7 linked regions of the Homo sapiens genome follow. The protein of the gene in region 2 interacts with the protein of the main gene of each other region in a biochemical or structural test. Each region holds a gene or a part of one and is shown on either strand. Other genes may lie near its edges.

Region 1 (3,500 bases), on a different chromosome or scaffold from region 2:
GGTGTCATTAAATTTTCATAGAGGTTCCTAACACACCAGAGTCACCATAACATGGACACTGAGTATAATATCTCCAAAGAAGCATTTGCTTGTCTGCCGTGGCTCTGAAGGGACCTGTTACAGTCCATCAGTGAAATAATATGTGTGTTAAAAGTCCCTAAATATGTATTTACAAGATAGTCAGATCTGTTTTGGTCTATTGGGTTAATAATCCATGCACTAAGTCTGTATATAAGTACTCACGAGATACACAGATCAGCTTTGGTTCACTGAGTTAATAGTAAGTAGGTCTTTAAAAAGGCACCTAAATAGCCGCATAGTTTGTATTTTAGCAAGTTCAGAAATGCAGTCTATATACTAGAAGCTATTTCTTTTAAAGTGTGGATGCATTGCTCTTGCTCTGGTGGATGCCAAAAGGTGTGCTTCACTCTAACCTGTAATATTTTGCCATTAAAATGTCAGAAGAAAATTGCCATAGCACAAACTATATTGAAGCTCTGAGGCACAGCCCTCCAGGCTGGGGTGGATGCTGTCCTAGATTATGTCATACATACTCCACCCGCTATCACCGCCCAGGTCCAATACCCCACTCCCTCTCAGCTGACTTTGCTTCCTTCCTGTCAGTCTCAGACCAGCAGCTGGAGTAATCCTGTTATGGCTTTCCTATGTTCCAGCAACTTCCCATCTCAGAGTCAAAGCAACTTCCTATATCATGGTCAAAGCCAAAGGCTCCACAAAACACACCCTCCTTTCTCTGAATTCACCCCTTCCACTCTCTCACTGGTCTCTTTGCTACTCCTTGTACACCCCAGCATGCTTCTGCTTCAGGTCCTTTGCCCCTGCCCTTCCTTCTTTCTGAAAATCTCCTTTCACATGGCTAGATCTCTTATATTCTTTAGTTCTCTTATGAGAGAAGTCTTGCATTACCACTCTGTATAAGACAGCAACATCCTGTCCAACACCACTCTTATTATTTTCCATTAGTACTTCTCACCATTGAAAAGAATATGTCTTTACTTTTATGTTTATTGTTGACCTCCCTCTCCTAGAAGCTCCTTCCACTGGGGCAGGAGCTTCCTAATCCCATGCATAGATAACTGCCTGGTACATTTTAAGTCCTCATTAAATATTTATGGTACAAATGAATGAAAGCAGATGAAAAAGGAGTCTTCTTTCTACTTCCTTGATTGCCTGGTTGTGCTCATGTTTAGGTTGAAGAGGAATGCATATCTCTTTCTGAGCTGAAGTCTTCTTGGCCATTAAACCTCACTTTCCTGTGATATTCTCTCAGTGGCACAAAACTGGTACTTCCTTAAGGTGCTCATCCATCCCGCTCCTAGAGCTATAGGGTTATAAGGAAGCTCCTAGAGGAGCTAGGGTCATCTCAGCTGGTCACAGAAACACCAGATCAGTCTGCTTCTAGGTGTAACAGTAAAAGTGCAACACATAGACAGAATTAGCATTTCTAAATCTCTTCACTGAATGAGCCTAATGGTGTCCACCACAGGCTCCAATGATGGCAGTGGACTGACTAGATTTTGCAGTTTGATGCAGCCACAAGGGATGGCATGTGCCACTCTATGTGTGTGTCACATAATGATAACAGACTGAGGAGTACTGGGCAGAACCATTATTCTCTCTTGAATCTGGTAAATTTCTCTGGAGGTATTCTCCCATGCCTCCACTCCCACCTTTAACCATGCATGTTGTTCTCAAATGCATCCTTTCTAATGATTGAAAACTGTCATAGCAACTCCTTCCTTATTTGAATTTCACAGGAACATTCTTTATTTCAATCACTCAGAAAGGAGCCTTTGGCAACGGAATCACAGCTGACAGCAAATTAATGACTATGATGCTGTGATTAGTTGAGATTACAGGCTACAGAGAGCTTGTCTGAGAATTCACCACTGACATCATCCTGATGCTGGCTTCTGCTGGGGATTAATATTGGTCAAAAAAGAGGTTGTGGTTCAGTTACAGTAAGCTCCATAGAAATGTAAGGAAATCTGTCTGTATTGTAATATTTCAATGACATGCTGATTCATTTAAAGGGCTTTTACTGTTAACTTGCTTAGCCTAAACAATCTTCCCCTATGCCCTCCCCGAGCACACTGACTTATTTTAATAAAGCTTTAAGGCATCCAAATAAAAAGTTGAAGTGATCTACATAATTCCAGTCCCCAAACTGAAAGTATTCATTAACCAAAAGGAAAACATAAGAATCTTGAATTATTTGGATAAGTCATTCAATTTTATAATTTATTTTACATGAATAGACAAAGCAATGGATATTGTAATGCATGTCAGTGCTTGAGTAGATTTAGAAAATAAAACTTTTCAATCAACTTAATAAAGAGGAGGTAAAAATTTAACATGAACAACACAAGAATGACAAAAACCATCTACTCAGTTACCAGTTGTCATTTCACATCCTTCTAAATTTTGGCTGCAAAGAAATAATGATTTCTGTAATCCCCAGGAATGACTTTTGTGGGGAGAAGATTTCAAACAAACGTCCATTTGCTTTAGATGAGCTTCCTTATTTGATTTCAGATCCTCCTAAGGGAAGAGATTTCAGGATTTCCTGGTTGTAAAGTGGAAGAGAACACTTTGCTGAACTTGTATGACATCACCTGAAGCATTAAAAGGGCAGGTGACCATGGGTTCTCTGCCTGTTTACCAAAGCTTCTTTACTTCCTCAATCTATTTTATTTTTAAATGTCAGAGTAGTCTGAAACCTTTCAAAGATATTCAGGCTGCAGAAGCAGAGGAAATATTAGGATACATTCTTTAACTTTTGTGAGAGCTTTTAAATAATCAATGGATGGACTTTTCGAATTGTTATATATCACAGTACAGATATTCTGACATTAAACCATGTGAAGAATAAATATAGTTTAACAACAAAGGGCATGAGGCCATCTCTATTTCTAGGAAGTCTGTGAAATGGCTCTTTAGAGTACAGACCAGAGGCACAAAGAGAGTATTGCATTTCCAAAGAATACAATATAATAAAATTTAGTTTATCAATGAAAATTAGAATATTATACAACAAATGAAAATAGTAAACACAATCTTTGTTTTAAATATATTTTTCAAACTCCACTTGGAAATCCACATATATTATAGAACAGATTTTAAAAATGTAGCTGTTGCAATATTATTTATTAAAAAGCAACAAAATGAGAGCAAATTATATTTAAGCTTATACTATAAAAATATTTTCCAATATACTTAAAACACGAGAGCCACATAGCTAAAGCAAATAGTATTTGAAAGATCTTACACTGGATATGTAATAGACAAGACATTTCTCACTGTAATAAATTAATTTCTTTGTTATACAAAACCCCTCAACCGTAACTTCATGAAGAAATGTGAAGTGGTATGAAAATGACCTTACCTCATATTCAAAGTCTTCTGTTCTGTCTGCATCAGCAGGCAAGCTGGAAATATACTCATTGTCCTCATAAAATTCATGCTCCATTGGATGTAGA
Region 2 (3,129 bases):
GTGGTGGATGTCAGTTGGCTTCCTCTGCTTCGGCATCTCTGGCCTGTGGTGCTCAGCCAGGGAAGGGATTTCTGGGGAAGGGCTGGGCCTGGGGACTGGTTATGCCCCTGCAGAAATGAGAAACGTCCTTGGAAAGTCAGACACAAAAACCTGGGCAGCTGAGACTCAGCCTGGGCTTGTGAGCCCTGCAGTGGTTCTGCCCACCACCACTCAGGAAGGGACAGTACTGGGGCAGGCCTATCCCAAGAAGCCTAAGGTCTGTGTGGCTACAGCAGAGTATGTGGCCTCCTGGCAGAGGTGGCCCTGGTGCCAAGCCTTCTCACCTTCCTGAACTGTGGTGGGTACTGGGTAGGCCCATGGCTGGGAACTCAAAAAACGTAACTCCTGTCCTACAGTCAGAAAGGGTCCTTGACTGTCATGTGTCCAAGGCCCTTTGGGCAGGCTGAGGCTCAAGAGTGCCATTGTGAGGTCAGCCCCTTCTGGGCCTACACCTGTCCCCCATTTCCTGCTTTCCAGGCCACAATGAGTAGCCTTCTGCAGGCACAGCAGATGAGGGGCAGAGACCAGGCTAGGGCTCAAGGCTCTCTGCCCCACTACCCCACAGCCAGCCTGGTGCCCATGGCTGAAACATTTTGGGTGGGAGTGTCCTGAACCTGCCCCCTCAGCCATGAGGAGAGGGCAGTATCTCTGTGTGTGGGGGTCTGAGTGGGGACTGGGGATCTTTGTCCCTGCAGAGTCCAGAGCTGTGCAGTTCCCAGCTTGCAAGTGCACACAAGCACCCCACAGCAATGTAAACAGGGGCATGCACACTCTCACAATTATGCTTTAAAGACACACACACACACATAAGGACAACACATATGCACCTACCAATCTCCCTACATACAACTAACTACATGCGCATGGTTACAGAGACTTGGAGCCAGCACTGGTCACCCTGGGAATGGCCATAGTGGCCTCCATAGCTGAGACTGGGCTAGTAGCCAGAGCAGCCTGATTTTAGGATGATGTCTGAGGCCAGGCCATGGGGTAGGTCTTAGCCTCAGCCTGGGAGTGACGTGTAAACCTCCTCTGCTCTACAGTGTGGTCAGAGAGCCCAGTGTGGACAGGAAAGGATGCCTATCGTAGTGGGAAGAACCCTGGTTTGGACTTAGGAAGCTCTGAGGCATAGTTGAGCCTGTGGGGTTCTGCCCTGAGTACCCCCTGCTTTTTGTAGGGTGGGAACCTGGGGAACAGGCAGACCAGCAGTTGGGTGGGCCCCCCTCCATTTCCCCCACCCCAACAGACAAACAGGAGGGTCTTGCTGCCCAGGTGGCCCCCATCAATGCAGCAGCAACAGGAAAACCCCTATCCACATCAGGCCCAACAAAAGCCCCTGAGAAACGTGAGCGCTCTCACACGTGTGTCTGTCGGGCAAGCATGCAGGCAGGGCTGACCTCTAATGGGGACCAGATGGGCTGTGGCCAGTGGGGGTGGGGCTCAGCCTCCGGGCAGAGGCTTTGGTGGGAGGGAGGAGTTGGAGGGACTGGGACTGGGAGGAAGGAGGCCCTCACTCACCCCTACCCAGCAGGGTGCAGGGGTCCACTGCAGGGCCATCAGAGCCACTGCCCCTCCCACGGTCACCCATGCAGCTGCCTCTCTAGGCCTGAACTCTGTGGCTAGGACACACATGGCTACCTCAGTTTTAGTTTGAGTCCCAGGGTTATCCCCTAACTGGGCAAGTCTCTTCACCTCTCTGAACCTGTTTCTTTATCTATGAGCTGGGGAATGTGATGCTTTCCACATCAGGTTCCTTGTGGAGATGAAATAAGACAATTGCATAGTGCCTGGCATAAAGCACATACTTGTTGGATGAATGGCTGTCAGGGGAATTCCTGGGCCCCCAGTCCTGTATTTTCCCCCTCTGTGGGTGGTACACCTCGTACCATATGCTCCTCTGCTCTGAGAACCAGCCTGCTGCCCACTTGGTTGTTGAAGCCTCAGTGGATTTTTCAGCAGGATGGGGGTAACTACCTGCTTTGGGACACTCAACTTGGATGGAGGCAGGCGCTGAGTCCAGATGAGCAGGTGCCATCTCCTAGAGGCTCAGTTCTAGCTCTCTGCTGGTCTGGGGAGGACAGGCTGAGTGTGCAAGGACTGCCTGCTCCACCTGACTTGCTTCTCCCCATCACCTGGTTCTGAGCATAATTGCCACTCCTTCCAGAAAACCCTACTAACCCAGAAGGATAGTAATAAGTTACTATCCTTCCTCCACCCTGGGCTAGGCCAAGTGCCTCCTGTGTTCCCACAAGAGGCCTGAGAGAAGGAGGTTCTCCTATCGCCCCACAGGGAAGGTGGGCCTGAAGTTCCAGCTGGCCCTGTCCCATCCCACTCGGGGATGTGTGCCAGGGCACCTTGTGCTGGTCCTAGGGCCAACTGTGGTTTCCTCCTCCTCGATGGCTCCAGCTAGCTCCACCCCCTCCCCAACACCCCCACTCAGGCAGAGGGTGGGAGCAGCATGGGGACAATGGGCCCTGTGTCTGTGTTAGCAAGGACTCAGCCCTGCAGGGGTGGGGTGGGGGTGTTTTTGTCACCACCCATGGAGCCCATGACCTTTTAAGTACAAAAGTGGGGCAGCAGCTGAGGGGCTGCCCTGGTGCTTGTGGAAACTCCCTCCTTCTCCAGTCTGAGCCACTGGCAGCCTGGTCTTCAAGGGAGTCAATGAGAACAAGTGTGGGGGCAGGGGGAGCTGCTCTACAGTCGCCAGCCTCCCAGGCCCACCGGCCCTGAGCCTCTCCTGGAAGACTGAACCCCCTCCCCACCACGTCATCCTGGCACTGCTACCTCTGAGGGAGGCTGGGCCTCATGCATGAGCTTGAGGCCCACACCCTGCTGCTCCCCTCTGCCTGGCCTGTGGCAAACCTGGCTCATTTGTCTATGGCAACATGTACCCCTACCCCTAAGGTCTGGGGTCCATGGGGCCATCAGAGCAAGTTTCTGAGACACAGATGTGGCCATGAATCCCTGTAAGAACAGCTGAGGTCCAGGATAGAGAAGCCCAAGAGCCTTTCTGTGGCCCTGCTCCACCACCTCATCTCTCACCTCTGTCCTCTCACTCCTTCCATCTTGTCCTCCCTTCCCCTGGACCTT
Region 3 (3,500 bases), on a different chromosome or scaffold from region 2:
GGTCCTTCTAGGCTCTCTGGGCCTCCTTCCAAGAGGCAAGGGCCATTCCTGTACCTTTCTCCGTGGAAGCGGGGTGATTTATGAGTCCACGCCCACGGGCGCCAGGACGCTCTGATGCAGAGACACTGGGCCACTGCTCAAGGGGCAGGCTGGCTCCTCGGCCTGAGCCCAGGGCTGCTGGCACACACCTCCCTCTGGACTCAGGGTGAGAGGCTGCGGTGGGAATTCTGGGTTCGTCTTCATAAAAAAACAATGCCCTTGGGAAGGAGCTGGGCTTGTGCAGCACAGTAGAAGATGGGAGACGCGACACACGTGGAATTGGTTCAAGAATTGCTTGAACCTGGGAGGCGGAGGTTGCAGTGAGCTGAGATCAAGCCACTGCACTACAAAGCTAGACAATGTCTCAAAAAAAAAAAAAAAAATTAGCTGGGTGTGGTGGTGCGCACCTGTAATCCCAGCTACTCGGGAGGCTGAGGCACGAGAATCACATGAGCTTGGAAAGTGGAGGTTTCAGTGAGCCGAGAAGGCACCACTGTACTCCAGCCTTGGTGACTCTTGCTCTGGTCAGAGAGAGACTCTGCCTAAAAAAAAAAAAAAAAAAAAAAAGAAAGAAGAAAGAAAAGGAAAAGAAAAGCCAAAAGGCATCAAGCACAAACCTCGTTCACAATATAGTCCAGGAGTTCAAAGATGGCCATGGCAGGCCGGCTATCCATCCCGTGACCTGCACAGGGAGAGAGATGGAGGTGAGATGGGCCGATGGCCACCTCACTTCTGCTGGGGGTTGGGCTCCCAGGGGGCTGATCACCACCAGGCGCCCTCCTCCACATGCCAGCCTAAATTGGAGGCGGGTGTGCAGAGGCACTGGACAAAGCTCCCCTGCCTGACTCTGGGTTCCATTCCCTGGGACAGCTACTCCTTGCCTGAGCCTCTAGTGAATTAAAAAAAAGGCAAAAGGAACAAGAACATTTTTTGAGAAGTCACACATTTGGCTCGGTGAGGCTTGCCGGACGTGCCAAAGTCATCACCCCTCCTCTCTGGAGGGCAGGGGGAGGGACGGTGCTGACCGCAGGCAAGGACAGCCGCGTGACCTTGCATGGAGCTGCTGGCGGTGATGGGGGCAGGCCCCAAGTGCCACTCAGGACGGGAGACTGGCTAGGGGTGGCTGACCCCTGTCTGAGAACCAGCTGGCCAGGCCTGGGCTTGGCAGCTGGACTTTCGCCTTCTGCCCGTCCTGAAATGGGCAGGTGGGCTGGGGCCCTGGGCTGGGGATGGTATACCACCTGAGAGTTGGGACTGGGAGAGGCTGAGGCTAGGCCTGAGGATAAGGACTTGGGGGCCTCTCCCTGGGATGAGATCAAGACATCCCAGCAGTCTGGCTGGAGAGGAGGAGGTGGGCTTGCCAGTGCTATGAAAATCTCCTTCTCACAGCCCCAATCCATCCGGGTAGGACCACAAAACGTGGCCTGTTCGTGTCATAAAATACTACTCAGCCTTTCAAAAGGACCCAGGCTCTGACACGCACCATGGCGTGGATGACCCTTGAGGACACTGCGCTCCAGGAGAGAAGCCACACACAAAACACAGAAGGCCACACAAGTGTGTGACCCCATTTCTGTGAAATGCCCAGGACAGGCCAGTCCAGAGGCAGGAAGGGGATGGAGAGTGACAGCTGATGGGGACAGGGTTTCCTCTTGGGGAGCTGAGAAGGTTCTGGAATTAGAGGTGATGGGGCGCAGCACTGTGACTGAAAACCACTGAACTGCTCACCTGAAATGAGTTGTGGGGTGTGTGCTTTGTAGTTCGGAAACATGGTTTTAAAACCAACCACAGTCCGCTACAGGGTCCTTTGGGGTCTGACGCCACCAACTCTCCCTGATGTCTGACTTTAAAAAAAATCACAGGACCCTCCTGTGATTCTGCACCAAGCAGGGTCCGCCCCCGGCTCTTCCCTCAGGCGGTGGAAGTGTCCGCTCGGCCCTCTCTGACTGGCGTCAGGGAGCTCCCGCTCCCGAGGTGCCCGCCCTAAGTGCCGGATTGTCCTCTGCGAGCCCAGCTGTCCCTGGGGCCTGAGCCCTCCCGCCCCCTCCCGGGCTGTGTCCCCTCCTGTGTGTGTTGGGGCCGGAGCCAACAGGCCACTGAGGGCCATGCCAAGTCCAATCTCCACTTCAGGACTCCCTGGAAGGCTTGGCCCGCAGCACAGGAGCGTGTCACCTGCAGAATGCAGGCTCTGTGGCGGCCAATTCCTTCCACTTTTCTGTGCGTTTGAATGCTTTCGGGATAAAATGTTGGAAAATCCAACTGCCCAGGGGCTTGGTGGCAAAGCTGCGCTCCCAGATCCCTCCAGCTGGCAACAACAGGTGCAGCTGCCCCGGACAGAACAGGTTTGGGGTGCTCACTGCTTCCAGCTCTGTCCCCGGAAACCCCAGGACCATGGGAGGACTGCTGACCACAGTCGGCACCATCCAGGGGGACAGGTGGTGCGCCAGGGGCAGAGGGGAGGCAGCTGCTGACCCTGGCACAGCAGGCCCCGCGCAGGGCACTGCGCGTCCAGACCGGAAGTTGCAGATTCAGGCCGTACCGCTGACGGGGCGCCCGGGGGGCCTCGGCCGAGGCGAGATGCTGTGAGGCTCTCCTTCTTCCCCGTCGACCACGGGCCGGCCAAAGATGGCCTCCAGCTCTTTGGCGTCGGGCGGGGGGATGGGGTACCTTCCGACGGCCAGCTCCACCAGGGACAGGCCCATGCTCCAGATGTCCGACTGCACCGAGTAATGTGTGCCCTGCAACCGCTCCGGCTGCAGCAGAGCCAGGGAGGAAAGAGCCCAGAGGGGCGAGGATGGCAGCTGGAACCCGGGAGGCTTGCCCCGTTACAGCCCCCGTCACCCTCTCCATGGCTAATGACCGCAGCAATGGATAGAGAGCTGTTACGCAATTCTACCTCCCGGCTCACCCACCCAGGGCCTCCCTGCGGCACTTGCTGAAGAGGCTTCCAGCCCGAGGCCTGGAGCTGGTGTTGACCGCAGCTCTTGAAGAGCCTGCAATGCTCAGCACTTTTGGGAATGGATGATGGGCCCCAGGAAGCAGGGGCCTCCTCCTCCACAGCTAACATCTCAGAGGCTGCTCCAAGGCTCAATTTGGCAGGTTGCTGAATCCCCAGTCGTTTCCTGAAAGACCCCAGATTCCAATTCCTTGGTCCAGAAATTAACTAAGGGCCGGGTGCAGTGGCCCATGCCTGTAATCCCAGCACTTTGGGAGGTTGAGGTGGAAGCCCAGGAGTTAAGACTAGGCTAGCCAATATGGCGAGACCCCATCTCTACTAAAAACATTTTTTTAAAAGTTAGCCAAGGCTGCCGGGCACGGTGGCTCACGCCTGTAATCCCAGCACTTTGGGAGGCCGAGGCGGGCGGATCACAAGGTCAGATTGAGACCATCCTGGCTGACATGGTGAAACCCTGTCTCTACTAAAAACACAAAAAATTAGCCGGGCGTGGTGGCGAGCGCCT
Region 4 (3,500 bases), on a different chromosome or scaffold from region 2:
ACACATAATAGTCAGAAGAACTTAGAAGTTGTTCTGACAAAAGTCTGTAGGAAATTCTGTTATGAACAAAATGTTGTTATAAACAACAGCTACACACCATCCCCCAAAATAAAGAAAAATTCTTCTAGCACTCTTTGAACCTTAAACAGTGTTTTAGTAGGCCAACTCATTGTTTTTCTTCTCTCTGAAAAATTAAAAATGCTAACTGTTATGATGAGTTCCACAGAAAAAGACAATTTCCATGACTTCATTTCTTGACAAAGAACAGCTACCTCTCTTGCTTTCTGCCACATACAAGCAAACTCCCAGACATAAAACCTCCCCTCAGAGGAAGCAATATGGGACCACAAAAGTATCTTGAGGTCTGCCCTATCTGCCCACGGGAAGCCTCCCCCTCACTGTGAGCTGTGAGCACTGGCTGCCTGGGAGGAGCAAGGTGTGGGAGAAGAGATAGCGACTGTCCCCCCATGTGCTCGCCGACTGTACTGTCACAACCTCTCAGGGTGGCTTCTGCCCTGTCACCACTTGATCTGGATTCTCTCTCCAAAAATTTAAAAAAACAAGGCGTGCCTGTCTTTTATAATGCTCTGTTTTAAGAGAGAGAAATCTCCAGGGAGAGAACAGGACCCTAAAAGTCCAAGGCCTGGAATTCTTCCTTTCTCTCTTTCCATTTTAAACAGGAAGCATTCATGCTAAGAGAGTCCGGAGGGAGGGCTGGTTGTATGTTCATTTGAAGGCAAATAATGTTTGTGTGTTGCAAATGTCAGTGATTTATCCTAAGGGCTTAAAATGAGTGCAGAAAAACCACATGTTTCACTTCATGCAGAGAAATATCTTCAGTGGATTTTGAGAGAAAGTACAGGTTAAGAAAAATTTTTTGAGTGTATCGGATATCTCCAACATGAACCAAAAGGAAATGAAAATGAGCATGGTGAGGTGGAGGAGAGAGACTTAAAGAATTCTTATGATAAAAGATATACCGAAGGCTGGAAGTTTTCTAAATCAAAAATGAAATTCTAAAGAAAGGGAAAGGTGAAATCCAGAGCCTTTATTTCCCATGGCTAGAGTGACAGATTATCCATTTGTGCTCCATTTGTCATGGGCGATTTAAAATACAGCAAAGCAAACTGCACTGAATAATAGCAGCTGATGCTATAATAACTTGTACACAAACAATTTAATTTTTTATCTGAAAACTCTAACTAAATTACCCCAAGCTCAAGGATCTTTCATTATTATACATAGCCAAATTAAGACAAAAAAGTAGAGAGAATTCTATTGTTCATCCTTATAGATTTGTTCACAAGCTGCTTTCTACATGCACCGAGCTGGGAGCTTGTCAAATCTTCATTGATTTGAGCAACTTACAGAGCTGTTTTAACATCCACCTCCACAGATTACAGGGTGATTCTGACCCTCATTGACAGTGCTTGATTAACCACAGACACTGTATTCTCACAGCCCTGTCATTTCTTTCAAGTGTCCTAGCAGTGTGTCTGACATTGGGGAGCTTTCCCTTAATTATTGTTGTTGTTTTTCTTTTTTAAAAATTATAAAAGGGGGAGTGGCAAAAAAATGGGAAGGATCTGGGGATGGTGGTGGTGGTGAATGTGTGCACAGAAGGTTTATGAGATTTTAAGAGCTGCAAACAGAACTCATCTGTTTAACCCCAGGCTAGATAAAATGCAGTCATCTGCACATTGTTTAGAGGCACACTGCTTCTGTTATGGCAAACGGATCAGAAGATGCTTGTTTTCTTTAGTGAGAGATCCAGACAGGGCCACTTTCTGTTAGTGTCTATTCTTACCCTGGATGTTTCTGTGTGCCTTACCCATTACAAGGTACAACTTACAGCTGGTTTGGCATTTCCCTATTCTGCTACTGGACTGGTGCTACTTCCTGGCTTTGTGGTAGAGTTGATTACTTTATATCAAAGCTTTAGGTGTGGGCTGGGTGCAGTGGCTCACGCCTGTAATCTCAGTACTTTGGGATGCCGAGCCAGGCAGATCACCTAAGGTCAGGAGATTGAGACCAGCCTGGCCAACATAATGAAACCCATCTCTACAAAAAAAAATACAAAACTTAGTCAGGTGTAGTGGTGGGCACCTGTAGTTCCATCTACTCGGTAGGCTGAGGTGGGAGAATCGCTTGAACCCAGGAGGCAGAGGTTGCAGTGAGCTGAGATCGCACCATTGCACTCCAGCCTGGGTGACAGAATGAGACTCCCTCTCAAAAAAAAAATTAAAAAAAAAAAAAGAGCTCTAGGTGCTCTGGCTTGGGACTTTTTCTAAGGACTGTAGAGCATTTAGGGAGGGGAGGGACATATGAATCCACACCAAGATGTAACAGCAGCCAACCAGAGTTAGACCAAGATGACAGCCCGTTTAAAAGAGCACCTCACAGATTTAGAAAAGCGAGTGCAGTCCATGGAAACTTTATGACTCCAAATAACCTGAACATTTCTATCACCATGCCTAGGACAGACTTCAGCCCAGCCTGTCCTGGATATGGTGGTAGAAAAGGGGAGGGAACTAATGACCCCATCCTTAAGAGAGGCAAACTCACTGCCTTGTTTAGGAAACTAGTTTGGTTACTATAATAAAGGCCAACAGAAAAGGGTATAAACCAGATTGAAGTGTATTTTCCTCTCATGCACCAATGTGAATGGAAGCAATCCTGATTGACATGGTGGCTCCATGGCAACGGGGACCCAGGCTCTCACCTTCTTGTTGCTCTGCCTCCCATAGCACGTGGTTTTCACCTTGTGGCCTAAGATGGTTTTTCTGCTGGCCAACAGGAAGGAGAGAAGGGAAGAAGTTCCCTTCTCTTCTTTTTAAGGGCACGTATCACTTCTGCTCCCATCCCATTGGCCAGACCTATGCGGTGGCCACACCAAACTGCACAGGAGGCTGAGGAACATGTTCTCCAGCCGGACGGCCAGCTTAGGAGCTGCTAACATGTGTCTCTTCTTCTCTTTCCAGGGGAGGACCCGCAGATCCTGTAGACTATCTGCCAGCAGCACCTCGGGGGCTCTACAAGGAAAGGGAGCTTCCCTATTATCCAGGGGCTCATCCTATGCACCCTCCCAAAGGGAGCTATCCCCGCCCCACAGAGCTCAGGGTGGCAGATCTCCGGTATCCTCAGCACTACCCACCCCCGCCAGCTCCCCAGCACAAAGGACCCTTTCGACAAGACGTTCCGCCTTCCCCTCCCCAGCACCAAAGAATGCCAGCCTATCAGGAAACAGGCAGACCAGGGCCCCGTGGGGGCAGCCCAGACCAGTACCCTTACCGAACCCAGGATTCCCGGCAGAAGAACCCCATGACTGCAGCCGTATAGCTGAGTGCCACCGAGGCCAGCCCGGTCCAGAAAGGAAGGTGTCTACTCTACCTTTGCCCTTTCTAAACCTGAAGACCTCCTTGGTGTTAGGAATTCTCCATGTTACTGATAAGCTTTTTCTCACTGACATTGTAACGCATGACTGCTAATCAGAGAGAAAA
Region 5 (4,038 bases), on a different chromosome or scaffold from region 2:
GCATCGAATGTTGAAGTAAGTTTAATATCTTGACTTAATGGATAAGTTTCTAGCAAATATTCATTACCTATATTGATAAAAACCAGAAGAGAAAATAGCCAAGAAAGACATTATCAAAAATACTCTGAAACTATTCCCTAAACAAAGATACTAAGGATAGATGATGCACCAGAAGTGCTTTATCAAGGGATATTCTTTGAGGAAAGATAGCCGATAATGGAAACAGATAATCATTGTCTCCATTAGTTTGACAAAAATAACATTATCTTGGTAACAAAACAGCACAAAGATAGCACAGAAAGGAAAACTTCAGATCAAGCCCATAGATTATAAAAATTCTAAGTAAATGCTAGCAAATCCAAATTAACTCTTGCTCTATGATTAGAATTATTCTAAAAGATGCAACAATTGGTTAATTACAGGAAATTTATTCACCTAAATTACCACATGAATAATTCAAAATAAAAAATAGAATTTCATTACATGAAAAACATCAGTTGATAAAATTCGACATCTATTACTGATTTAAAAAACAAAGTTTAAGAAATGAAGAATATAGAGATTCTTCCTTAACAGTATCTGATACCAACAGCCAACTTCCTATATCTACTGAGTCACTAGGACTACTTTTCTAGAACAGTATTTTGCCAGGACAAGGAAAACAGGGTTTGGGAAATGCAGAGTTATACAATGTTAAATAGGTATCTTTACTACAAAACTATGAGTAAAAATATTGCCAAGCAAGAGATATACAAACCAGAAAGGTTTTAAAATAAGAAACGGATAATTATTAAATTTCTGGCTTAAATTGCAATATTCTTCAAAGGATTAAATTATATAATTCAAATTGGCCTTCTGTTTTTGGGGATTCAGATATCATATTATTTCTCATCAGTCATAATATTAAAGTCAGTGACCAGAAAATACAAATAAATTGTTTAATAATAAAATCTGCTATCATTTATCCTAAATTTATCTTTAAAAGATCCAAAGTGTTACATCTAGAATGCTAATGTCAAAGAGAAAAAATAATTATGTTAAAAACACTACTGAAAAACTTGAGATACTATAGCACATTTTAAGTTATCTAATATATGGAGGTGTTGACACAAAAATCACTGTAACTAAAATTCAAAAGTATAATGAAATATAAATATAGTCATCTCAGTTCACTTTGTGTTAGGGCAAAATAGGATCCAGCTTAAACTATTGGCACTGCATAGCTTTACTGAAGTGTCTTGATGGTTAATGCGCAAATTATTGCAAGTGTAGTATGTTCCAAGGAGGCTACAGTTCATCCCCTGTAAAAAGAGAGGGAAGGAAGCTCAATGACATGAACGGAAAGATCCTTGGGGCCTGCAGGCTCTCTCTCTTCATTTGCAACTGCAGAAGTAGAGCAAGAGTACACAGTTATTCAGAATTATTTGCATTTGGCAAATCCTTAATTGATCTCTGGCCACTTGAATAGATTCTTCCAGGAAAAGACATACGACAGTTTTCATCCAATACCCTGGGTTTGGAGCATAACTTATTCTGGAGGCCAAAGAAAAACAAGCCAAGCAGTTTCTCTTCCTTTGGTTCAAAAACATTGAATAATCAGTCCTCATTAGTTTCAAAATCAGCCCTCCAGATTTTAAATGGAGAGAGCAAGTGGCTTAGGAAGGTTGTAGTTAGATCCCGCAGATGTACTCAACCCCTCTGCTCTGCAACTGACTCGGACTCTGTCCAGCAATCAGTCCCCAAGGACTGCCACAGAGAAAGTCCTAAAGGCAACCACGCTCCTCCCTCTCTTCTCTTGGCCATCTCCTGTGAGGAAAACCTCTGTCCTGGCTTGACTTCTGGACACCAGGATGCCTCCCTTCAGACAAACTAAAAAATAGCCTCACGGCACTTGCTGCAGAGGAGTGTGTGTTGTTTAGAAACTAATTTCTCACCTAATACAAATTATCTGTGTCAGATTCAGATTTAATAAGTACTATTTTTGTGTTGAGTAATGTACGTACTTTTTCTAATCCTTAAAACAACCCAACAAACGTAATATTAGAATTCCATTTTTTAAATTAGATGGCCCAAAGCAATTAAGTGACTTGTCAAAAGCTAAACAATTTATAAGCATGAGACTCAAAATTTGAACTCAAATTTGAGTTTATCTGATTTCTTTAACCAATCTTCTCTCTTATTTCCATCAAACTAATGAGGGGATCATCACCTTTCACTGATATTTTTATGGATAAAACATAAATCGCACAGAAATTAAGGGTTAATCTCCCATAAGAATCTGATGTATTAGTCACAAAATATAAAATGAGAGAACCAAGTCTTACCTGGAGGAAGAGATCAAAGATAGCCAGTTCCTTTCAATGTGCTCAGCAAGAGGATGGACCACACACCACAGACTGAAAGAGGAAACTGAGGTAAACTCCACAGCAATTTTGAACAATTTTGCCAGGTGGGGAGAGTGTGGGTGGACACAAGCAGAGGAGATTAGGGAAAAGAAAAGATGAAGGGCATGGTCTCACCCCTGAGCGATCTCTTCTCTTTCCTCTTTCTTCCTGGCCTCTTTTTTCTGGCAGTCAGCAGAGAATTGGCCACGCTGGCAAGGCCACTGACGTGCATCTCAGCTCCCAGGGCACAGAAAGAGCTGAAGCTTTTGAGCCATTTCTTTGCAATTTGCTGCAAGTTTAAGGCCACACGTGATAAAGCTTTCTTTATGGGAGAGAGTGAATAAAAGAAAAGACCACTTGTGATCTTACTTGCTGATTCCCAGAAAACACAACTCCGCAGGGGGCAGAGGGTAAGGAACAGAAGCCAGAGGAGGGCGGAAGTTTATAACAGAGACCCCTCCTCCTTCCAGAAAGTTTTTAAGCCAACTATTCCTTAGGGACATCACTGGGATCCTTGTGTTTTCTTTGTTTGTGTGTTTTGGTTTTGGTTTGTTTTGTTTTGTCTTTAACGGTTCTTGGGCTAATTTGCTACATGGTTTTCTTTTCCATTGGTGTTCTAGAATCTTTAAGGACCAAGTATCAGGTCACAATCAAAGCTCTGCAGCGCTCTGTACAAAAAGAGTTAATTCTCAGAGACATGATCAGTTGCTCATATTTACAATTTCTATGAGTTTTGAAAACAGAAAAGAAACACGTTGAATTTTTGGCATTCAATTGTTTATTCTGCCTAATTCCAAGGATAAATAAATCCTTGCACTGAGAAAGTCCACAATTCTAATACATTCTTTTTCCAAGAGAAAAACTTTAGAGGATCTTAAGCAGTAGTAGTTTGCATTTATTTTCTACCAATAAATAAATTTGCTACCAGAATTATCCAAGATTCACCCTACTCTTAAGTGGCTGAGACTCTGGGATGGTCACTTAATTTTACTGAGTCTCAACTTCTTCCTTTGTAAAGCAGAATTTTTTTGTTTAAAAAAAAAAAAAACAGATTTATAGGGCTGTTTTAAGGATTAAATTATATAATGTATTCAAAAGCACATTGCAAATGAGCGGAAGGTATCATCATTTTATATATATATATATTTAGTTCACATAATGGTCAGAATAGTTAATATTATTCAAGCACATTTTACTACAAAAGAAAGAAAAGAAAATGCAAGAAAAATGGGTTTATATTAAACCTTGCAATGAAGCAATGGTGTTTTCACACTCTGAAAGGCCAAATATTTTACTTTAACAATCAAACCAGACTTTTCCATCGGAAATAGTGAGCAAACATCCGAATACATTGAGTGTTAGTCTAGACTTCTCAGTGTCTAACAGGTGGCCAGACCACTGTTTTATTCAAGAGGAGACAGTATTTACCAGCCCAAAGGGCATAATTTTCCTCACCAAGAAATGAAATTCTCCCTTGAGAATGTAATTTTGTCTATTCCCAACTGGCTCAGTCTCACTCTCCAACACGATTCCTTTTCTTATTTCCAGAGTCCACAGTTAATGTTACTGTTTTGAATGCACATAATGTTTACACTTATTCAGAGCTTCTTATGTGCAACCTTGCATTGGATTGTAGCCTACTTCAGCCTTTCAT
Region 6 (3,500 bases), on a different chromosome or scaffold from region 2:
CATGTTGACAGAAATGATCCAACTCTCTTAGAGGGAAACAGGCAGGTGCTGAAATACTCCAGAAAAGGAGCCAGAATTAGTAATGGTAGGCTGCTGATGGCATTCATTACTGCAATCGGCAGAAGAAATCCATCCAAATTCAGGTTGGAATTCATAGTTTGCAGATAATATCCTGAAGGAATCTGTATTCGAGAGGGAAACATCCATGCATTAAGACAGGGGTTTAACTTTGAAGAAAGCATCGTCCACCAGAGGCCTACCCTCTTGCACGTACTCTGTGATGGATGAGCTGGATGTTGCCTAGTTTTTCAAGTTCCCAGTTATGAGCTGATAAAGGGTCTTCATCTGTGGTGGTAGGAGCTCTGTCTAGTCTATTGACAATAGTACTCATTACTCATGAAATACTCTATCATCATTTAGTCTCTCTTAATTTTTCTATGAAAAGTAATGATGGCCCCAATTTTGTGCTTAAGATGACACATAAAAAGCCAAATAACTTAAATTCTGTAGATAAGCAAAATGACTTTTCTTCATGAACACTAATATAAAACCAGTAAAAAATACTAAAGACGTCTGTTTTTACCCTGATGAAAAAAATGAGGCTAGAATAGATTCTTTAAAAAGCATCTAGTTTGGTGGCAATATAGAAACGACTTTTTCCTAAGAAGAGGGGCCCAATGTGGACACGTGTTAATTGCTGTAGGCTGTCTTTGAGGGGGCTATTTAGAGAGGCTTTGTTTCCAATGTGAACTAAGTAACAGGGGGAGGAAAAAAAAACCTTGTGTCTTTGCCCTCCCTTCAAACTAATTACGTGATGCTAGAATTCCATAAAGGAAACAACATGAAAAAGGTTTGCATGATAAAGTGAAAGATACAATTTTTTTAAAAAAAAACCCTGTGCTCCACCCCAAATCCTCAATGTATTGTTAGAATTTCTTCATTTTAAAAATAACCCCAATGCTAACTAAAACTCTAACACTGATTTGGAGCCTCTTAGTGTATTCCAATCCTCTTGGCAACCGAGTGTGATATCAGAACCAAGGGATGATGTCACATGAAAGAGGTGTCTCTTCACTTTTCTAGTACATGAGCTTTGTTACAGCTTCATCAGCTTCATCATGATCTTTTTTATTTTTATTTTTTTTGAGACAGAGTCTCGCTCTGTCACCCAGGCTGGAGTGCAGTGGTGTGATCTCGGCTCACGGCAAGCTCCACCTCCCAGGTTCACGCCATTCTCCTGCCTCAGCCTTCCGAGTAGCTGAGACTACAGGCGCCCGCCACCACGCCTGGCTAATTTTTCTGTATTTTTAGTAGAGATGAGGTTTCACCGTGTTAGTCAGGATGGTCTCGATCTCCTGACCTCGTGATCTGCCTGCCTCAGCCTCTCAAAGTGCTGGGATTACAGGTGTGAGCCACCGTGCCCGGCCCATCATGATCTTTAGTAGCGCATAGTATTTCTTTAATTCCCAGTGGTACACAAAGCTATTGAGTGTCATAGACAGAAAGTCAACCAAGTCTTCTTGAGGAATGGATCCTCCAAACTCGTATGGTACAAGAGCTGCATTAGGATCCCTGCTTCACCACCATCCTGGGAGAGCAGCCTCGCTCAAATATCCAGATGATAACTTCTCATTTGAAACATTTGCTAACCCCTTCTCTAGACTCAATTGTACAATTCAAGAGGGTATATATGGAGAATCAGTATTATGGTGTCAGTACAGCTGTTACCAAGTCCACTAATTGTAAAATGAGCCTATTGCCATGTTAACTGCGCAAACACAGGACAAGACCACATTTTCACTGAGATTCTTTCTGTAGACAACGTGTCCTGGTGATCATTTATCTCCCAATCTTTAATTTGACCCTTAGCATAGTAAACAAGGATTGTTTTGGCTGAGTACAGATGGCAAGAGTTAAAGGAACATTAGTTAGTTCTGCCCTACTTCAATAAAATTATTAAGCATGGATCCCCCATCGGAGGAAAATGAATGATGTGTTTTAACAAAAAGTGCTGGCAGCGGAACAACTCTAAGACTGAAAGGCTCCCAGCACAACTTGGAAGTTTCTGTTACTGATTTCAAATGAGAATTATTGTTAATAGGAATAAAGTTATTATCGGCATGAATCACAGACACAGAAATATGTTAACTTAATAATGTGGCAAATGTACTATTAATCTTTAGTGAAGCAATATTAATATATTGCCTAATCTTAGAAAAGGCTGCAGTGTCTTGAAAGCTTGAAATCATTTCTGCCTCTGCCTGAAGTTCTGAAATCATCGCCCTGTAAAATTTTAAATACTTTTATTTCATCCAAGCCTTTGAGTATTCAGAAATAATTGCTGTCAATAGAGATTCATTCTCACCTTTGACTGGCCAGTAATGTCAAATGGCAACCTCATCAGCCGTAATATCAACATATTTTAGATGTATGTCTTGCAACTGAAGGTCAATAATGGCTACTAAATTTAAAATATGTATGAAATTCTATGATGTTTTATTCTTGGTACTTTGATTGCCTTTGTACTGGTGATTATTTCATCTGGGGGCAAAAAACTAAACCCAGCCTATCCTATTGGAAATTCCTCTGCCTCCCTGGTGAAGTATGATCTAAGCATTTTCTTTGAAGTTTCTAGCATAACATTACTGTATATAATTTTGGAATCTATGTAGTTTGTATCAGGGACTTTTAACCCAATGCAAGAGTGATATTGAGGATAATAAAGCATGGCGCTTGACACTAATCCTGAGGTGGGATGTTGCTCTGCCACACATTAGCAAGGTGACTGGGAACAAGTTGCAACTTAGTTTCTGAGCCTCAGATTTAGGAGAGTAATAGCCATGTAGCCTTGCTGTGGGGATTAAATTACGTACTGTGAAGCCATCTTTTAGAAGCTATGGCACTTAATAGGTGATCAGTAACTATTAGTTTCTGTGCTTTGCAATAAGTTGCACATCTAGATTTGGTGATATGCTTAAAAATTAGTTTATCAAAATTTATTGTAATTTATGTTCAATTAAAAAATATATGACAGTGTGCAAAGAAGGGTCCAACTTAGTGGAAAGAAATGTCAGGTGTCATTGCATTATGAAGGTAAGGAACTGGTATTCTGTGCTACTTGCACATAAGCTTTTGAGGTTAGCTATGGGCCATGTAGTAATTTTGTACTGTTTATCGGTTCCTCCAATCTAAGATGTTTTATTATATTAATGCTTACATATATGGGTAATATTTCTGCTGTATTCTGTTTTTGTGCCTACTGCTATTATAGAGTCAAGAGGGAGTTTGAATCTTCTAAATCAGACTAGCTTTCATGCATTATTTAGTCTAGAGGTCAAGAAATTTTCTGTAAAGGGCCAGATAGTAAATATGTCCACATATGGGTTCCGTGGCAATTACTCAACTCTGCTATTTTTGTGCATAAGCAGACATAGATACGACAAAACAAAGAGCATGGCTATGTTCTGATAAAACTTCATTTATGGACGCTAAAATTTAAA
Region 7 (3,500 bases), on a different chromosome or scaffold from region 2:
GAGAGGCTGTCTCCTCCTGAAATGGGGTGTGGAAACAGATGGCTGTGGTCCCCCTGACCAGCAGGGGCCCATGGTAGCCAGGAGTTGTGGCCCCGGGGGTGGATTCTCACTCAAAGTGTTTGGCTCCCTGTCCAGGAGCAGATGCTGTACACCTGTCTGTATCTGCCCCTGAGCTGTGGGTTGAAGGGCAGAAAAGAAGGGGAGGCATGCCCTGCAGTGCTGCGCCACAAGCTCAGCAGGAGAGATGGGATGCACAGGCAGAGGAAAAGAGACAGGATGCTCACAGCTTCCTGAGGTCAGATGCCTTTGGAGAGGGCCCCTGAGCTGAGGACAGGTGGAGGGGAGAGGACAGGTGGATGTCATGGGTCCAGGCTTCTAATGTGTCTGCTCTGCTCAGGGCACAGGGTGCAGGGCTATGTGACCTGGTCCCCATTTATAGCTCAGATCTAGTTGCCACAGGAGTGGGGGTGGCTCTGGGTGGCTTCGTACTGCTCCTTATCCCTCCTGTCCTCCGCCTCCAGCTCACACCTGGACCCTGCCGGTACCCACTCCACTCTCCAGGGCAGTGGCACCACCACCCCGGAGCATCCATCTGTCATCGACCCACTGATGGAGCAGGACGAGGGGCCTAGCACCCCCCCAGCCAAGCAGAGCAGCTCCAGGTCAGCAGACGTTGCTGTGAGCCTTCCCTGTGTCCGCTTCGGCTGGGTGGGGCTGAGCACATTCTCCAAGTGGCGTGGGCACTGGGCAGCTGGCCTCATGTGCTGCAGGCCGCACACCAGGTCTTCAGGAGTTGGGCCGGGAGCACGGCATTCCTTTTTTCCTTCCCTACTCTCTCTTTTCCTTTCTCTTTTTCTCCTGTTTTCTATTGACTTGTTTTTTCCCCTGCATCTTCTCTTTCTCTTCTCCTTTTCTTGTTCACTCGCTTTCTGAGTCTGTCTTTGGACACATTCCCACAGTCATCACCCGGCCAGGCCCTGGGCTCTGGCCACCCACAGCAGTGCTTCCCCCAATGAGGTGGCAGACCAGTGCCGGGCACGTGCAGCAGAGTCAGGGTGCTGGGAGGGCACTGCCGGCCGCCGCAGAGCAGGCAGGAAGATCACTGGAGTGTGGCAGGGGAGGTGGCAGCTGGATTAAAATGTTCAGGACAGGCAAGAGCCAAGAGTGGGCATAAAGAGAAGTCCAGGCCGAGGGAGCAGCAGAGTTCAGGAGGAGGAAGGAGCTCCATGGGAGCTGCACAGCGTCCAGCCTGGCCTGGGGCTGCAGGGAGGGCCATCCAGGCCATGGTGTGACATGATCACTCTGCCGTCCTGGAGGAGCTGTGTCTCCAGCACTGAGAGGCCTTCACCAAGCCCTGGGCAGCATCTCACAGAATGAGGCCAGCTCTGCATTCTCTATACCAGAGTCTGTCACATTGGAACTTACCTGCTGCAAGGTTTTCCTCCCGGGCTGGCATCTCCCCTGAAGCCCCCTGTATCTGTTTCCATCGCTGTCCCATCTCACTCCCTCCATGTGTTCAGCAGCTTACTTTCAGCTTCCCTTCCTTGATTGTAAGTGCCTTGATGGCAAGGGGCCCCTCTTCACAAGTTAGCAGTTGCTGGTCTATAGAAGCTTCTTCGTAGACATTTGCTGAATACATTGCTGTGCTCTGGACAGTGAGGCCAACTTTACCTTTCCTTAGGAAGTACTAAGTTAGGAAAATGAGTGTGATCCACATGGGAGGGAGGCCATCCTGATCTTTAAGGCATGAGATTGATAGCCGGGCCTGGGAGCAGGGGCACTGATTTACGGTTTTGACTGCCCCCGCTAACTGGCTTTGGACCTGGGGTCTTGCCTTCATCTCCAGTGCACCTTAGCATCCTGTCCCGAACGCCGAGCCAGTAGAACTAGAGGCCACCTCTCAGCTCCCTGTGGTTCTGAGACCCCAAGAAGCAGGCAGAAAGCGGTTAGGGCATTGGCCACTGCTTTGTCTTTTTGTGCCTCCTCTTTGTGCACAGTTGAGGAACTTTGTTTTTTTCCTGAAAGGATTGCGGGAGATGCCAACAAGAAGACCCTGGAGCCACGCGTTGTCTTCATCAAAAAGTCCCAGCTGGAGCTTGGGGTGCACTTGTGTGGTGGGAACCTGCATGGGGTGTTTGTGGCCGAGGTGGAGGATGACAGTCCTGCCAAGGGTCCTGACGGCCTCGTGCCAGGGGACCTCATCCTGGAGGTGAGTTCTGAGCTGCTGAGCAGGCCAGGCCTCCATCTACCTGCACAGTGGGCTTGCTGCCATCTCAGGTGGCACCAAAGACGGAGGAGTACAGCCTCTCATCTGGTGAGCCAGTCAGGGCTGACTTTTGTTGTTGTTGTTGAGGCAGAGTCTTGCTCTGTCGCCCAGGCTGGAGTGCACTGGCACAATCTCAGCTCACTGCAACCTTCACTTCCCAGGTTCAAGCGATTCTCCTGCCTCAGCCTTCCGAGTAGCTGGGACTACAGGCATGTGCCACGATACCCGGCTAATTTTTATATTTTCAGTAGAGACCAGTTTCACCATGTTGCCCAGGCTGGTCTCAAACTCCTGACCTCAAGTGATCTGCCCGCCTCGGCCTTCCAAACTGCTGTGATTATAGGCATGAGCTACCGTGTCCAGCCTCAGGATTGATTTTTTTTTTTTTTTGAGACAGAGTTTTGCCCTTGTTGCCCAGGCTGGAGTGCAGTGGTGCAATCTCAACTCACCACAACCTCCGCCTCCCAGGTTCAAGCGATTCTCCTGCCTCAGCCTCCTGAGTAGCTGAGATTACAGGCATGCGCCAACACGCCCAGCTAATTTATTTTTGTATTTTTTGTAGAGACGGGGTTTCATCATGTTGGCCAGGCTGGTCTCAAACTCCTGACCTCAGGTGATCCACCCGCCTCGGCCTCCCAAAGTACAGGGATTACAGGCGTGAGCCACTGTGCCTGGCCAGGGTTGATTTTTAATCCCTGTAAACCCAGAATCCTGCCAAGCCCTTCTGAGGAGGTCCCTGTGAAGCCAGGCAGGCCATTGAGGGAACCTGAGGGCAGAGCCTTGGCTCAGGCCCTGGGCATCAGGGGGTGCTCGCCCTCAGGTGATGTAGCTGCAGGACTCTGTTCTGATGAGAGAGGATGGTCTTTCTCTGTGGTCTCCTGCCTCATGGGGGAGATGGTTTGTGAGAATATAAAGGCACAAGTTGGGCTGGGTTTGGTGGCTCACACCTGTGAATTTTAGGAGGCCAAGGTGGGAGAATTAGTTGAGCCCAAGAGTTCAAGACCGGCCTGGGCAACATAGTGAGACCCTGTCTTTACAGAAAACAAAACAAAAAAATTAGCCAGGTGTGGTGGAGTGTGCCTGTTGTCCCAGCTATTCTGGAGGCTGAGGTGGGAGGATCACTTGAGCCTAAGAGGTATAGGCTACTGTGAGCTGTGATTGCACCACTGCACTCAGTCTGTGTGACAGAGGGAGACCCTGTTTCAGAAAATAAATAAATAAAAGCACAGGCAAC

What was found.
Region 1: the proteins of PDLIM4 (region 2) and PDZRN4 interact in a test that uses a peptide from one of them, tested with the Homo sapiens proteins (one large-scale study listed by IntAct).
Region 3: the proteins of PDLIM4 (region 2) and MAP2K2 interact in a test that uses a peptide from one of them, tested with the Homo sapiens proteins (one large-scale study listed by IntAct).
Region 4: the proteins of PDLIM4 (region 2) and PARD3B interact in a test that uses a peptide from one of them, tested with the Homo sapiens proteins (one large-scale study listed by IntAct).
Region 5: the proteins of PDLIM4 (region 2) and SLCO1C1 interact in a test that uses a peptide from one of them, tested with the Homo sapiens proteins (one large-scale study listed by IntAct).
Region 6: the proteins of PDLIM4 (region 2) and SLC15A5 interact in a test that uses a peptide from one of them, tested with the Homo sapiens proteins (one large-scale study listed by IntAct).
Region 7: the proteins of PDLIM4 (region 2) and DLG5 interact in a test that uses a peptide from one of them, tested with the Homo sapiens proteins (one large-scale study listed by IntAct).

What each region holds. Positions count from the first base shown.
Region 1 is NC_000012.12:41,509,820-41,513,319, reverse strand, and holds part of PDZRN4 (PDZ domain-containing RING finger protein 4), read right to left. Parts: coding exon 3,407-3,500; intron 1-3,406.
Region 2 is NC_000005.10:132,267,696-132,270,824, reverse strand, and holds part of PDLIM4 (PDZ and LIM domain protein 4), read right to left. Parts: intron 1-3,129.
Region 3 is NC_000019.10:4,096,623-4,100,122, forward strand, and holds part of MAP2K2 (dual specificity mitogen-activated protein kinase kinase 2), read right to left. Parts: intron 2,793-3,500; coding exon 2,579-2,792; intron 722-2,578; coding exon 657-721; intron 1-656. UniProt on the Homo sapiens protein: Catalyzes the concomitant phosphorylation of a threonine and a tyrosine residue in a Thr-Glu-Tyr sequence located in MAP kinases. Activates the ERK1 and ERK2 MAP kinases.
Region 4 is NC_000002.12:205,612,475-205,615,974, forward strand, and holds part of PARD3B (partitioning defective 3 homolog B), read left to right. Parts: intron 1-2,981; coding exon 2,982-3,339; 3' UTR 3,340-3,500. UniProt on the Homo sapiens protein: Putative adapter protein involved in asymmetrical cell division and cell polarization processes. May play a role in the formation of epithelial tight junctions.
Region 5 is NC_000012.12:20,694,094-20,698,131, reverse strand, and holds the start of SLCO1C1 (solute carrier organic anion transporter family member 1C1), read right to left. Parts: upstream 2,801-4,038; 5' UTR 2,325-2,800; intron 1-2,324. UniProt on the Homo sapiens protein: Mediates the Na(+)-independent high affinity transport of organic anions such as the thyroid hormones L-thyroxine (T4), L-thyroxine sulfate (T4S), and 3,3',5'-triiodo-L-thyronine (reverse T3, rT3) at the plasma membrane.
Region 6 is NC_000012.12:16,239,686-16,243,185, forward strand, and holds part of SLC15A5 (solute carrier family 15 member 5), read right to left. Parts: intron 183-3,500; coding exon 1-182. UniProt on the Homo sapiens protein: Proton oligopeptide cotransporter.
Region 7 is NC_000010.11:77,808,256-77,811,755, reverse strand, and holds part of DLG5 (disks large homolog 5), read left to right. Parts: intron 1-135; coding exon of another isoform or gene 136-172; exon of another isoform or gene 173-287; intron 288-521; coding exon 522-662; intron 663-2,025; coding exon 2,026-2,209; intron 2,210-3,500. UniProt on the Homo sapiens protein: Acts as a regulator of the Hippo signaling pathway.